3 separate regions of the Homo sapiens genome follow, and all the other regions are reported to be linked to region 1. Evidence: microRNA targets listed by miRTarBase, many of them from high-throughput screens and not tested one by one. Region 1 holds a microRNA gene; each other region holds the end of a gene's coding sequence.

Evidence for each region. The annotated mature microRNA hsa-miR-302c-5p reads UUUAACAUGGGGGUACCUGCUG and lies in region 1 at 2,171-2,192, opposite strand. An mRNA with a match to its seed (bases 2 to 7 or 8) in the 3' UTR can be bound and repressed. Matches are read on the target gene's strand: a 7mer-m8 pairs with bases 2 to 8, a 7mer-A1 pairs with bases 2 to 7 and ends in A, and an 8mer does both.
Region 2: miRTarBase lists SHC4 as a target of hsa-miR-302c-5p. Seed matches in the 3' UTR shown: 8mer at 820-827.
Region 3: miRTarBase lists PEX11A as a target of hsa-miR-302c-5p. Seed matches in the 3' UTR shown: 7mer-A1 at 2,980-2,986.

Annotation. Positions count from the first base shown.
Region 1 is chr4:112,646,232-112,651,231 of GRCh38, forward strand. It overlaps MIR302C (microRNA 302c), which reads right to left and starts at 2,199; the gene lies at 2,132-2,199. It overlaps LARP7 (La ribonucleoprotein 7, transcriptional regulator), which reads left to right. Exons shown (of 13, transcript NM_016648.4): 3 at 120-220; 4 at 357-440; 5 at 560-724; 6 at 803-896; 7 at 968-1,318; 8 at 1,459-1,603; 9 at 3,304-3,455; 10 at 4,230-4,351. It overlaps MIR302CHG (miR-302/367 cluster host gene), which reads right to left and starts at 3,820. Exons shown (of 3, transcript NR_146092.1): 1 at 3,761-3,820; 2 at 2,282-2,368; 3 at 489-737. It overlaps MIR367 (microRNA 367), which reads right to left and starts at 1,710; the gene lies at 1,643-1,710. It also overlaps MIR302D, MIR302A and MIR302B. RefSeq lists an enhancer at 2,640-3,362.
Region 2 is chr15:48,821,259-48,826,258 of GRCh38, reverse strand. It overlaps SHC4 (SHC adaptor protein 4), which reads left to right. Exons shown (of 12, transcript NM_203349.4): 12 at 133-2,518. The coding sequence ends at 288. Among named protein-coding and RNA genes, the nearest start is that of CEP152, 13 kb to the right of the region's middle.
Region 3 is chr15:89,679,365-89,684,364 of GRCh38, forward strand. It overlaps PEX11A (peroxisomal biogenesis factor 11 alpha), which reads right to left. Exons shown (of 3, transcript NM_003847.3): 3 at 2,171-4,584. The coding sequence ends at 4,013. PLIN1 (perilipin 1) reads right to left here and starts at 3. Exons shown (of 9, transcript NM_002666.5): 1 at 1-3.

The sequences.
Region 1 (5,000 bases):
AGTACTAGGATTACAGGCATGAGCCACCGAGCCTGAGGGCCTGAGGGGCAGGTTAAATTGTACCAAATTGAATTAATCCTGCTGATACACTAACATATTAACTTTTTCATTTTCTTTAGATGTTGATATATCACTACTTGTGTCTTTTAACAAAATGAAAAAATTGACTACTGATGGGAAGTTAATTGCCAGAGCATTGAGAAGTTCAGCTGTTGTAGAGGTAAGAATCAAGAATAACTACTGTTTATATTTATAGTTTATAATTATAAAGAATGTTAACGTAATGATTATTATATGATTATAGCTTACAATTATAAATAATATTAGTTTTATTAATGTAATATACTATTTTAAAGCTTGATTTGGAAGGCACCAGAATCCGGAGGAAAAAACCTCTGGGGGAAAGACCAAAGGATGAGGATGAACGCACAGTGTATGTGGTAAGCTTAAGAACCCGGGTCCCCAGTCAGAAACTGGCACAGAAACAATATAATTAAGTTAAAAATTTATTGACATTCTGATTGTGAAAAACTCTAATATTGCTTTTAATTTATAATAGGAGTTACTTCCCAAAAATGTTAATCACAGCTGGATTGAAAGAGTATTTGGGAAATGTGGCAATGTTGTTTATATAAGTATACCACATTATAAGTCTACTGGAGATCCAAAGGGATTTGCGTTTGTGGAATTTGAAACAAAAGAACAAGCAGCAAAAGCAATTGAGGTAAGTCCAGATCCTAAAAAAAAAAAAAGAAAGAAAAGAAAACAAGTATTAAAATAGTAACTTTTGCAATCATTTCAGTTTCTTAACAACCCACCAGAAGAAGCACCAAGAAAACCTGGCATATTTCCTAAAACAGTGAAAAATAAGCCCATTCCAGCCTTAAGAGTTGTGGGTGAGTATTTTTCAATATTTAAATAGGTGTAGTTGAAGTAAGATGAACTAATAATGATGGCACTTTTACAGAAGAGAAGAAAAAGAAAAAGAAGAAGAAAGGCCGAATGAAAAAGGAAGACAATATCCAAGCCAAAGAAGAAAACATGGACACAAGCAACACCAGCATCAGTAAAATGAAAAGATCCAGACCCACATCTGAGGGCTCTGACATTGAGTCCACTGAACCCCAAAAGCAGTGCTCAAAGAAAAAGAAAAAACGGGACAGAGTTGAAGCATCTAGCTTACCTGAAGTCAGAACAGGGAAGAGGAAGAGAAGCAGCTCTGAAGATGCAGAATCCCTAGCTCCCCGATCAAAAGTAAAGAAAATTATTCAGAAAGACATCATTAAGGAAGCATCAGAAGCTTCCAAGGAAAATAGAGGTAAAACTACAAGGTTTTAATTAGATAAAACTAATTAATTTTAATTAATTAGTTTTTAATTAATTAGGTTTTAATTGGCTTCTGTTTCACCCATTTCACAGCCCCATGTCTTAACGGAGAGCTTTTTTATTTATTTCAAGATATAGAAATCTCTACTGAAGAGGAAAAGGATACTGGAGATCTAAAAGATAGCTCTCTCTTGAAAACAAAAAGGAAACATAAGAAAAAACATAAAGAGAGACATAAAATGGGAGAAGAAGTTATACCATTAAGAGTGCTATCAAAGTAAGTCTGTGGTTTAAATTCTGTCATTGGCTTAACAATCCATCACCATTGCTAAAGTGCAATTCCAATTTATATTCAACAGAGTTGCATATTAGCAACAGTAATGGCCTGTAGCCAAGAACTGCACACAGTGTGGGCGTTAACGCAATTGCTGATTAGGTAGGAACCACCACACTCAAACATGGAAGCACTTATTTTTGTCATGTCACAGCAAGTGCCTCCATGTTAAAGTAGAGGGGGCCCCTTAACAGATGTAAAAATACAAAATAAAGCTTAAATATATGAGCTGCGGTCAATACAATAAAGTTATTTTCTAAAAAAATAATAAAAATGTAAAAGGAAGACTTACCATCACCAAAACATGGAAGCACTTACTTCTTTAGTTTCAAAGCAAGTACATCCACGTTTAAGTGGTGGGGAGCCCAGTCTTGGAAAAAGTTAGAATCCTTTAACCTGTAACAAGCTTAGTAACCTTAAAACACAATAACAAAAAAATTTTGTAACAAAAGGTGTGCTGGCTTGGAGACACCTCCACTGAAACATGGAAGCACTTACTTTTGTTTCACACAGCAGGTACCCCCATGTTAAAGCAAAGGGGATCCCTTCAAATGAGGTTAGCGTGTTCTATTTTGGAGAAGTAAATTGGATTCACTCCTACTAAAACATGGAAGCACTTACTTTTAAAGTCACAGAAAGCACTTCCATGTTAAAGTTGAAGGGAGCCCACCCAACATACAACTTCTTTGGACTTCAGAGTATTTAGAGCTGAGGAGAAAGAAAACAAAATGGCATAACTTTAGAAGAAAAAAATTTTTTTACCTTCCTGAACTAGTTCCCAAAGATTCGTGTTCTCCTCCAGAAGGGTAAAAGGCAGGGACTTCAGCCACTTCTATTTATACTATTCTTAACTCTTGAATTCCTTTTGCCTTTTTATCTCAGAGAATCATTACAAGGGCCTTTTGTTATTTTAATGTATCAGCTCTCAGGGAATGTATGATCCTGGGTGGGTCTGGATCCTTTTTTTTTTTTTTGAAGTATACAGATGTCAATGTTAACAGCTAAAACCATTACCACAAGATATCTTCCTCTTAAAAAAAAAAAAGAAAAAGAAAAAGAAAATCTCCTATCTGCTTGTTTGATGGCATAGATTAGGGTAACAATGAGTGCTCCCACTGAGCCGAGAAAGGCATTGTGTTTCTATCTGGAGGAACTCTGTTTGAAGAAGCATCTACATGTTAAATGTATGTAAATAAATAGATTGCTTCCACGGGGTGTTTTGTTCTACTTAGAAATTCTTTTTGATTCAAGTAAATACTAAGGAATGTTATCTCTCAAATTGGAAGCAGTTTAACAAATCTTTAATCTCGCCCTTTTCCCACAGAGATGACTGATTTAGTAAATGTTACTAGTTAAGGAATTAATGCTAAAATTTTACTTTTATAAATTAAAATACTTCAGACACTCAAAAATTTAATTGGCAATCTTAAAACATTTAATCTGAATATTGGGGGAAGAGGAACTCCCTTAGCTTATTTTGCTAAATGTCTTTAGAACCTAGGAAATATTTTGAATATGTGTTTAAAGAAACAGGAAAGTTGGTGGAGGAGTTGCTCCAAGTCATTGTGAATGTATATATTTAGATATTTCCCTATTTACTTTTTATATTTAGTCATCTGTTATCACCATTTCTTTCCTTGTAGGAGCGAATGGATGGATTTGAAAAAAGAGTATTTAGCGCTACAAAAAGCTAGCATGGCTTCTTTAAAAAAAACAATATCCCAAATAAAATCAGAGTCAGAAATGGAAACAGACAGTGGAGTACCTCAAAACACTGGAATGAAAAATGAAAAAAGTAAAGATCACTGATAGTTTTGACAACATTATAATGTACTTATATATGTAAATGCTATCTCTGAGTTGTTATAAGATAAATTTTAATTTTAAAAAACTTGATTATTCTATTTCATTATTAGAACAATTCTTGATTTGTTAAGTTATCCAGATGTGTTACTTACTCTTGATATAAGAATATTTAAAAGGCTCATTTAAAACAATTTTTTAAATAACCTGAGTTTTCTCTACAGTTTTCATCAAGCACATGAGTGCAGAGTTTGCAGACTGAGCAAGTTTGTAGGAATGAAGATTGTAGTTTCTCACCTGTTAATTTCATTCTGTAGTATGCACCACAAGCAGGAACAAGTTAAAGCAGAATTCCTATGAATTCAAAATTAGGATACATTTTAAATTCTCATTTCTTGTAAAAATAAATGTTCACGTTTGAATAATAATGTATTTAAAACACAGTATCCTTTAACTTTTTTTTAACTTTATTGAGTAAAAATTTACTGTTCCTTTGTTCAGGGAGAAGGGGCAAATTTAAAGGCTTTACGAATGCTCTTCTAGCAGTAACAATTTGCATGTAGAATAATAAAACTTTCTGAGTTTTATTCATGGTATTTTGAAATAAGCAGTATGACATATAACCTTTAATTGTTTACTTTAAAATTAAATACGTTTTAAATTATTTAAATCTGCCTCAGGAATTATTCTAAGGTAGTCCTCCTAAGTATTAAATTGTTGTTAAGTGTAAGAGATTTAGTCCTGGTCTTTTTCCTTTTCTAATCAGCAGCCAACAGGGAAGAGTGTCGCACCCAGGAGAAAGTTAATGCAACAGGACCACAGTTCGTGAGTGGAGTGATTGTGAAGATCATTAGCACAGAGCCTCTACCTGGCAGGAAACAAGTCCGGGTAATGATTTTGAGCCCCTAGGGTATTTGTTCCTTTCTTCTCTTATTATTTCCCTGTGTGAAAATGTTTTGAATATGGAAGATAAAACAAATCAAGTTAGAATTTGTTTCCCTATGGTAAACTACTGTACAGTTTTAATTCCATGGTAACTCTTAGGTTTAATTTTGAAGCAAAATCTAGAGGCTGAAATTCCTCACTAAATCTATATGTAAGCACAGTTTAAACATCCTTCTCTATAGGAAAATTGTAACTTTTGCTTATTTTTATTGGCACTGATTTTTTTTGTATTACCTATGTGCTGATTATCTTTAAAATTTTAATTATAGAAAAGTAAAATATTTTTGAAAACCTCTTAAAATTTTTCACGCATGTGCCAAAAAACCCATACTTCTATATAATTTACGCTACAAATTGCTGTACATACAGGTTTATAATTTTTTCGCTTTATACAGTCTATCTTCTGTAGCCTTTTATACCACATTGGTAGCAATACTTTCTATTAGGGAAATTATATACTTTTAGGTGAGAGTACCATATCTTATTTACCCTTACCCTGCCTGTCACCCATTTAAGTGAATCCTTTTCTTTTTAAAAAGTGTGAAATGCTCTGTAACATACCACATATTTTAAGTATTTTCTTATACTGACA
Region 2 (5,000 bases), not on the chromosome of region 1:
AAAAAGTACCTTTTCTTTTTTCAGCAAAGTATCTACTTTAGGGATATATCTGGCATTTTCCCCCTTATTATTTATATCTTTCAGGAGAACTACTATAATTTAACCTAAATATATTTGTACTTCTTTTTCAAGGTGAGGACCAAGGATCATGTATTTGATAATGTCGGCCACCTTATCAGATACCATATGGATAACAGTTTGCCAATCATCTCCTCTGGAAGCGAAGTAAGCCTTAAACAACCAGTGAGAAAAGATAATAATCCAGCACTTTTGCATTCCAACAAATGACAGTATTGAAGCACCATCACACTGATATTTCAAGAAACCCCATTTTGTATTAGGACACAAAGATAATTTAAACTTTGTTTGTAGATAAAATAGAGCACAAACTGTGAAGTGCATCTTTCCAAGACCATCATGGACCAGGTCCTCTATAAAATGAAGAACTAACAAAAATTAGTCTTCAGAAATGAAAATCAGAAAAGAGGAAGAGGGTTGGTCATTTTAAAAGAAATTATATGTATGCACGGATGTCACTTTTTAAGGCCATATTGCATTGATAACAAGCTAAAAGCACAACTAAAATTTCACATGCTAACGACAACTTGAATGAACTGCTGGGGCAGTGGTATGTGCCTTTCAACTTGATAATTTGGGGGACATTTTCATATTGGGAGATTAATTCTAAGTATCTTCATGTTCTATGACTATAGAACCATTTGCCAAAAAAAAAAGCTTTTCTTGCTACAAAAAATAAGCAATTTTCTTGAGCCTTATTGACTTTATTACATTTTCTGTTTAGCAGCATTTTTCACTGCAATGTTAAAATAAATATGACATTGAATTCGAACTGTGTGTATGTCAGTGGAATCAAATCAAAAGCCACTAACATGGCTGTCTGTTTCATTGGACTGTCCCATTTGCTGGTTAAAAGGATTGGGGCCCAAATCCTCTGGCCTAGCATTTCTCAGTGTTTGCTATTCAGACTGTCTAAATACAGCATGTGACAAGCTGAAGAAGCCAAATCTATCAGTCATTTCTGATTTCATTATATTCTCCCCCTCTTCCTGCTAAAAAGACAAAAAACAAAAAACAAAAAAAACAAAAAAAACCTCATGAGTGCATGGATTTAAAAGAGGGCAAACAAAACCAGTATTCTTCATATTTACTATTCAAATTGGTTTCATTCTTAGTAAAAGTACAGAATCTATTTGAAATTATAGTAAAATTTCTTCTTGATTGGCTGACACTGAATCATAGTTTCTCACCTACATATATCCTTAGCACCTCGTATAGATATGATCAGACAAAATGCAGAAGGAAAAAAAAACATATTGAATGAAGCACTTGGAAAGATTTTCCACATGTAGACCAACTGGTAAACTAACAGAGTGATTAAGCATGGTGTACAGAAAAGCATTACGCTGAGTCTTACCAGTGTGACCTTCAGCAAGTTGCTGAATCTGTTTGGGTTCCAGTTTCCTTGGCAATAAAATGAGCTAAATGGGCTAGGTGAATTTGGAGGACTACTTCAGTCCTAACTTATAGTATGAGTCTCTAAAAAGCAAGTTTTTCATTTGTTAGAGGTCGTTATTGATAACCAGTCTGTATAGTTAAGGTAAAAAATTAAGCTTTTCTTCTATAGTCTGTGTCCATACTCACAGAATGAATGGCACACCTGAGATCAACATTCACATAGTTTAGACTCCAAACCATTCAGTCTAAAATACTGAAACTTTGGAATATAGGGAATGATGATAAAAGTGGATTTGGTTTGAGTAGCAGAAAACTACTTATGTCCTTTTCTTGCCTTTCCAAGAAAAATGTTTTTTGTTTTTTTTTTTAATCTTGAGTTATCTGGATATTGCCTTGACTCCATTTCATTTTGGCTATGTAGATACAACTTAGTCTTTGTGATTGTGATATATTTGCTAAGTTTTAAATAAAACTTCTTTTGGATAGAAATCATTAGAAACCAAGCATACTGCACTCTAATATTTTACTGTAAAGGCTTATGATTTTTATTTCTACTGCCATTAATTTTTTAGATGGATTTGTTTCCTCTTACACAACTAGAATTAATGTATTTTTCACCAGTTTTCCATATACCTTAGGTCTTGATCGTTTGTCCTTAAAAAGGGGATCAGCATGAGTATAGACAGTAGAAATGTATGGGTAGTCTAACCACTTTTATCAGAGACAGAGCAGGGCTGTGGTCTCACTCTAGCTGAGCAGAGTATTAACTTGGTAGCAAGAGTTCCTGATACAAATAGATGCAATGACTGTAAATGGTGTCAGCAGTACACATGGATAATCAGTATTTGACTGTAATAGTATAGTAGTTAAATACAGCACTTAAAAATACCACAGACACAGTTAAAGCAAAAGGAAACAATAAAAGGAATGTCTGCATGCTATTTTAATCTCACATTCTTTATCTGTCTTAAAGTGGAAATCCATTTGCCTATAAATACCTGTAAACGACTTTAAAAAATAAATGATTATTGCTTTGTGACAATTGACAGAATATGTCTGATGTTTGGGATTTGGAAACTGTCATTTGTAAAATGTATCAGGGAAACACATTGGCTCAATCAAACTGGATAATTCAAGGTGAGTTTATTAAAGGGACTATTTACAAAGGTGTGGGCAGAGTTTAGGGAAATCAGGAGGGAGAATGCAGTGCCTTGGGGCCAATTAAGGGAGAAAGGGAAAGAACAGCTAACAGAATCTGGAGAGGGAGCTGTGTGCAAGGGCTGCCTTTTAGGAGCTGTGGCCTGTAGTGGAGGAATGCAATCAGCCCTGCTGACTCAACTAAGAGGCAGTGAGGGGCATTCATAACCCAACGTTTTTCTGCTCCCCCTATCTGTCTCCTGCTGGGATTCTCCAGTGGCCCAAGTAACTTGAAGACAGAGAGCAAGGGAGCTCCTTGATGCAGTTCTGGAGGTCAGCCTCCTGGGAACAGAGGAGGATGGAAAAGACTAGAGGGGGAGATCTGGAAGGGCAAATAAATGGAGTACATCTAGCACAGAGGACTTTGAAGAGAGTCAAGCTTCTAAAAGCATTAGAGAGGCTTTGGGTTAGCCAGTAAGGCAAAGCTAATTTGCAGAGAAATAAGTCCAGATTCTCAGGTAACCATAAATGAATTACAGCAAAAATGTCAACTTGTTACTATTATTAAAACTCAAGCTATATTTTGAAGCATTGGTTATTTTGCTCAAGAACAACTTCAAATGCATTTCAATCTTACAGAGATACTTTTAATCCCACCTTCATGTTTCTTGCAATTCCTTCTACTAATTTTGCCATTTTATTACTTGTAATTATATATGGAAAAGTAATGAACCTGACCCTGTTACCTTTTATGATTGGAATTATAGACCGACAAAAATTATAATATGAAATCACTATGTCAAACACATGTGAAATATACCATCTGCATCTGTGGAAAATATTTAAGTATCGACATATTAGTGTTAAAAATGAATTGTCTGTAGTTTGCCATAGTCTTACTAATGGGACAAACGGTTTTAGTCTGTGAATGAAAGAGAATTTATCACTACAGACTCTGAAAACATCAAAAGAATAATAGGGGAATGCAACACACAGTTCTACACATATAAATTTGACAACAACTTGGATGAAATAGACCAGTTCCTCAAAAAGTACAAACTACCACAATTTAGCCAATATGAAATTGATCATTTGAATAACCTTATAACTATTATGAAAACTGAATTCACAATTACCTCCCCCAAAGAAATTCCAGGCTCAGATGTTTCATTGGAGAATTCTATCATTTGAAGAAATAACATTAATGCTATACAATTGCTTCCAGAAAATGGAAGAGAAGGGAATACTTCTCAATTCATATTTTGAAGGTAAAATTACTCTGACATCAAAACCAGACAAAAACAGCAAAAAAAAAGAAAACTACTGATGAAATCTCTGTGAATATGATCAAAAATCATTAACAAAATATTAGCAAGGATTATTCCCCAATATATAAAAAGAATTATGCACCATAATATGACTAAGTAAGGTTAATTCCAGGAATACAAGGCTGGTTCAATGTTTGAAAATCAATCACTGTAATCCACTATATTAAGAAGCTAAAGAAGAAAAATCACATGATATCAATTGATGCAGAAAATGCATTTGATACAATTCAACATCAATTTATGATAAAAATTCTTAGTAAACTAAAAATAAATAAACACCAACTACAGAGGCCACACTTGGTGGCTCACACCCGTAATCCCAACAGTTTGGGAGGCCAAGGCAGGCAGTCGCTTGAGCTCAGGAGTTTGAGACCATCCTGGGCAGCATGGCAAAACCCCATCTCTGCAGAAAATTTTTAAAATATTAGCTGGGTGTGGTGATGTGCACCTGTAGTCCCAGCTACTCTGAAGGCAGACATGGGAAGATCACTTGAGCCTGGGAGGCTAAGGCTGCAGTGAGCCATAGCTGTGCCCTGGCACTCCAGCCTGGACAATAAAGTGAGACCATGTCTTAAAAAAAAAATCTACAAAGAACCTACAGCTAACTAACATTATACTTAAAGTCATGGCCTGAGTCATTTCCCCCTAAAATGAGGAGCAAGACAATGACATCTATTACCACTATTCTTGTCAATATACTACTGGAAGTTCTAGAGAGTGCAATAAGACAGGAAAAGGAAATAAAAGGTATTTTATTTAAAGATCAGAAAAGAAGAAATAAAACTGTCCCTATTTGCAGATAACATGATTGTTTATGTGCAAAAAATTCCAAGGATCTACAAAAACCCTCAAAATCCCCAAATCCAGAAAATGACCAAAAAAATCCCTCCTAGAACTAAGTTTAGCAAAGCTTAGAGGATACAAGATAAACATACAAAATTAAATTGCATTTCTATATATTAACAATGAACATATAGACACAAAATTTAAAATGCAATACTATTTACAGCTGCTAAAAAGGACATGCATGTAAACCTAACAAAATACGTACAAGATGCA
Region 3 (5,000 bases), not on the chromosome of region 1:
AGTGTCTCCTCAGGCAGAAACAATTCCTGTCACTCCTGGGAGGCTTGGGCAATGCTGCTTCCACCTCCCAGCTAGAGGAGGGCAGAGAGGGAGAGACAACAGGGTCAGCCAGTTGTCATGGTTATATGACCCAGGGTTCCCCAGGCATATCCTAACTTCTCTAAGGACATTTAGCAAACAAGGAGGTAGGTGGCAGAGCTGAAGGAGATCCAGGCTCAGAGGACTTAGTATTCCAGAGCCATGAAGCATCAGTTCTGTAATGTTCCTGCCCTCAATTCACAAAAATCTGCTTTCCAGAAAGAAGGTATAGGGATAGACATCATTAAACTCAAAAGCTCTAAAGTTCTATATACCTCTGCAATCTTTTGGCTCCTTTTCCATAGAGGGTCTTGTGGGAGTTTTCAATCCATTTCTCTCATCTTTTCTTATTTACTAGCAAGACTGAATGCTGAACAGTAAAATTTAAACCCACACAGAAGAGTTCATCTGAATGTATTCATCTTTGATTATGGAGATAAATTGCCCTCAGTGAAGAAGCGACAGAGCCGGGAGTTGAGTTTTTGACAATATAGCCTTTGAGTTGAGGGAGGAATTCCCACTTCTTAGAATTCAAAAAAATTTATTGAACTTTACCTGGCCTAAGATGCTACCAGAATGAAGAGTAGGAGAGCCAAGTAGATTTTTATTCTCCTGGGTCTGGATAAGCGACAGTGTTGACTAGGATTCTATCACTAATCAAGAGCACCCAGACAGCCAAGAATTAGCACCACTCAACCCTTCTTTACCCAGGACTCAAGCACAAGCCCAAGTTCTAGTTCCTGGCTTTAGATATGATGGAGGACTATGGTATAAGCCATAGCTTTCAGATTAACTAAGAAGGGCCTCTTCATGAAAACAGACAATAGGAAAACAAAACTTATTTTCTTTGTTGCTGGTGGAATTATATGTATTGTTGACTCTGTTAAGTCACACAGTGTGGGCAAGAGAAGAAAGAGGCAGGGGTGGGGAATTATGAAAGATCCTTGGTAATAAATTACGTATCTGTGATGCAATAAAGTAGGGAATGAGAAGGCAGGAAAGGGAGGAGTCAAGCAGGGAGGCTTCAAAGGAGTAATACGCTATACGTTTAATACTTATTGATCCAACCTGTGCTTTTCAAATGTAAGGCAGTAGAGAAGACAAAGTATTTAAAGAAGTGGCCTCTGCCCTCACCTCAAGGTTCAGCACAAATTATCTGTGAGGCTGTGACTGGACAGCAACCTGAGCCAAAGGGCAGTTTTCAGCCTTCAGAGTAGTGGCTTTGGGCCAGAGGGAACATAGGGCTTTGTGCCTGAAAGCTCTGCCAAATCAAATAGTCCTTTGGCTGCTTTAGCTGGGAGTGCAGAATGTGGGTGAGAGGTGAGAAGTGGTGAAAGGGCCTAGGAGAGTCCCGAGGGAAGACAGAAGTGTTAGTTTTCTAGCAGTAGCTTGCAGGGCATAGAGTTCTATCTTCTTTCCTTCTCCGTACCTACCTGCTTTCCCTACCCCTCCACCAAGTGAGAGCAGGGACCTAGGTCATCTTGCTCACAAGTGGATACCCAAAACCATGCATGGCACTCAAACATTCATTGTTGAATAAATGAATTGTCAGGCAACAATGCTCAGTTGTGAATGTGCTGGGCTGTACATCTACGAAGAACTTCTTCGATTTTTGGCATCCCTCATGAATGTGGAGGCTCTGGGGTGGAAAACATTAGTTACAAAGAAGGATTCACAGGGTGGTACCAGGACACCATTAAGGTTTACACAAACCTCTTAGAAGAGGTAGTATTTCCCAAACTCCCCACCACTCACCATTGCAGAGGACAAAAGTACCAAGATGGATACCACTGTAACATAACATACCACCATGAATTCAAGGCAGACTTACCTAGGCAGAAGCCAGCCAGCGATTGACAGGGCTACTGTAGAGCACCATCTCCATGGCAGCAGTCTAGATGAGTTCATTTCAGAGGTCCCTCTCAACCCAGAGGCTCTACATCTCAATCTTTCTCCATCCTCCTCCTCAGCCTGGATCTTCTAGCCCAGAGCTCGCTGTACCAACTGTGTAGGCTGATTGAGGATTATCTGATGGATTGCCTTATGTTTAACTCTTCTCTCTTCCCAGAACACACTCACAGACACAAGTCAATTTTGTCTAGAAATTTATTGAACATAGTTAATCTATTACAGTAGAGGATCTGGACAATAAAAATAGTTATTTAAGCTTTTTATTTTCCCTGACCTAGTAGCTTTCATGTCTCTTAAAATTCCCTAAATTTTATTTCTCAAATCCCATATCGTGATTGGTTAAACAGACAGCCAAGAATCTGAGTCTATTTTTTGAGAATCTCAATCACATTTCTGGGAAATGTGACTTATTGAGTACATATTTATTTTCTCATTTCCATTCAGATAAATGACACAGCTTTGCTGGGAGGACTGACATCGGCCTCCTACCTGCTGGCATCCTATTTCTCTACCTCACCTCCCTCAAACTAAAGGATCTGTAACCACATATAAAGACCCACACCCAAGATGGCAGATAGGAACACAAGTCAATGTCATTGACTCAGCATTCCATTGTCCTCTTCACTGGCTTCCTCCTGCGCTTTCCACCTCCCTCAATCACCCTAGAAATAAGATGTCTGATTTATCGTAGAAAATTGTGACTCTCTTACATCTGGAGTATTCATGAAATTTTTTTGACTGGATAAATTTTGATGAAAATTAATGTAGAATTGCCTAAATTGTTAGAAGGATTTAAATAAAACAATCTAACTGATAAGTCTAAATACTGTCTTAATTTTTTTTTAAGACACAGGGTCTTGCTCTATCACCCGGGCTGGAGTGCGGTGGAAGCTCACTGCAGCCTTGAACTCCTGGGCTCAAGTGATCCTCCTGCTTCAGCCTCCAGAGTATCTGGGACTACAGGCATACTCCACCATGCCTGGCTAATTTTTTAACACTTTGTTGTAGAGAAGGAGTCTCACTACATTGCCCAGGCTGGTCTTGAACTCCTGGCCTCAAGCAATCCTTCCGCTTCAGCCTCCCAAAGTGCTGGGATTATAGGTGTGAGCCACCACACTCCACCCAGTTTTAGTTTTTCTAGAAAAGAATATAAACCACTGGACAAGGAAATTTCCAAATTATGGGAGAGTAAGAGGCAAAAAACAGGATTCAGGAGGGGATCACATTTCTACTCAATTCTGAAGACAGTGGGAGAGCATGGAGAGAACACTGGATTAGGAGTCAGAGGAATGAGGCTCTAGCCTCAGTTTTTTGTTTGTCTCACTGTCAGCTTCTTATCTGTCACAGGCTACATATAGGCACCCATTGTGACCCTGTACCTATTTTTATAAGTCCCTCCGGTCTGCTTCTGATTTTTGCTTATTCACTGCACCCATAGACACAATTTATACCATGAAGGTGCCTGATGCTTTTCTGATTCTACTTCTGCACAGAGCAAGGACATGAGTGCAGTGATGGTATAAGGGCCAACAAGTTGAGAGGCTGTAAGCCCAGCTCTCCTCCATCCTGCTACTGACATCAGAGCCTCTACTAGATCTGAGAGTGCCATGCACCAGACCTACTGTAATCGTGAAACCAATGATCCATATGACCCTAAAGTTATTGTATACTGGTGTTCAATGATCAGTGCGATTGGGTCTTTTTAAATTTTTTCCTTTCAATTTTTATTCATTCAGCAAATACTAAGCTCCCACTATGCACATAAGAGATGTTCAATCAATGTTAGATGAAGGGAAAATATTCAGAAATTCACAAGTCACTCCAGCACTCCAAAAACATACAACTCTTCATGCTCCTCCCTTCTCCGTTCTTGGCCTCATCTCTGCCCACATCACAGGTTGTTAAATGCTCACATGAACAAGAACTTAAGCACAGTATGACATGGCCTGTGACTTATACAAATGTCTGTCCCACCAAGAGGCCATCTTTTAAAGTAGGTACTAGTTCCAAGCCTAAAAACACCCTAACGGGTCTTCAGCTTCATCTGAGGATATGCCACAGTGATCATGCCTGCTATAGAGGACACAAGACCTCCAAGTCCAATGATGCCAGGATTGGATTTATAGATCCCCAGCTGGTCCAAAGGGTTCAGGATATCACAAAGGTTCTTCACTGTGTCCAGGAGCAAGGGAGGATGCTGCTTCAGAGATCGGAATAAAAGAAGTAGAAAGGATTGGAGCCATTCTGTTTCCTCCTCAGCCACGCTGAACCAAAGAGGATCCTGGGATGCTGATTTCTCTTTCTTTGCCCTGTCACATGTAACTCGTTTCATCTGCAGGGAGATTTCATACAGATCCCTGACCAGGCTCAGCAGAAGAGAATAGTAGTAGTGGTGAGCAGCCCTCGTTCGCCATTTCTCTTTGTTGATGCCAGAGGTGAGACCTACGCTCCTCACCCAGAGGATGGTGTCACAGATGAAATAAATCACACGGTTCAGGTTGGCTAATGTTAAGCATAAGCGAGGTACCAGGTCAGTGGCATGAATGCTCTGCTCAGTTGCCTGTATAGCATGTACCACATTGCCTAGTCTGAACCCTGCAAGTAGAACCCACAATAGTGAACAGTTATTTCATTAGTACACAACAGGAAGATAGAATCCCTGTATCAGGGTGAGGAGCCAGCTTTTTGTTGTTTTTTGTTGAGACAGGGTCTTGCTCTGTCACACCGGCTGGAGTGCAGCGGCACCATCACAGCTCACAGCAGCCTCAGTCTCCTGGGCTCAAGCAATCCTCCCACCTCAGCCTCCCGAGTAGCTGGGATTATAGGCACGAGCCAGTGTGCCCAGCTTAGCACTGGTCTTTTTAACAACTGATGGTCATTAAAGGCTCAGCCTTTGTTCAGAAAAAGAGAAAGATTTTACAGTACATTAAGGACACCTAAAGTGATCTTGGAAGGCAAAAAATACAGTGACTCTTTAAATTTACCTCCTCCATTGTAATGAACACCTTAAT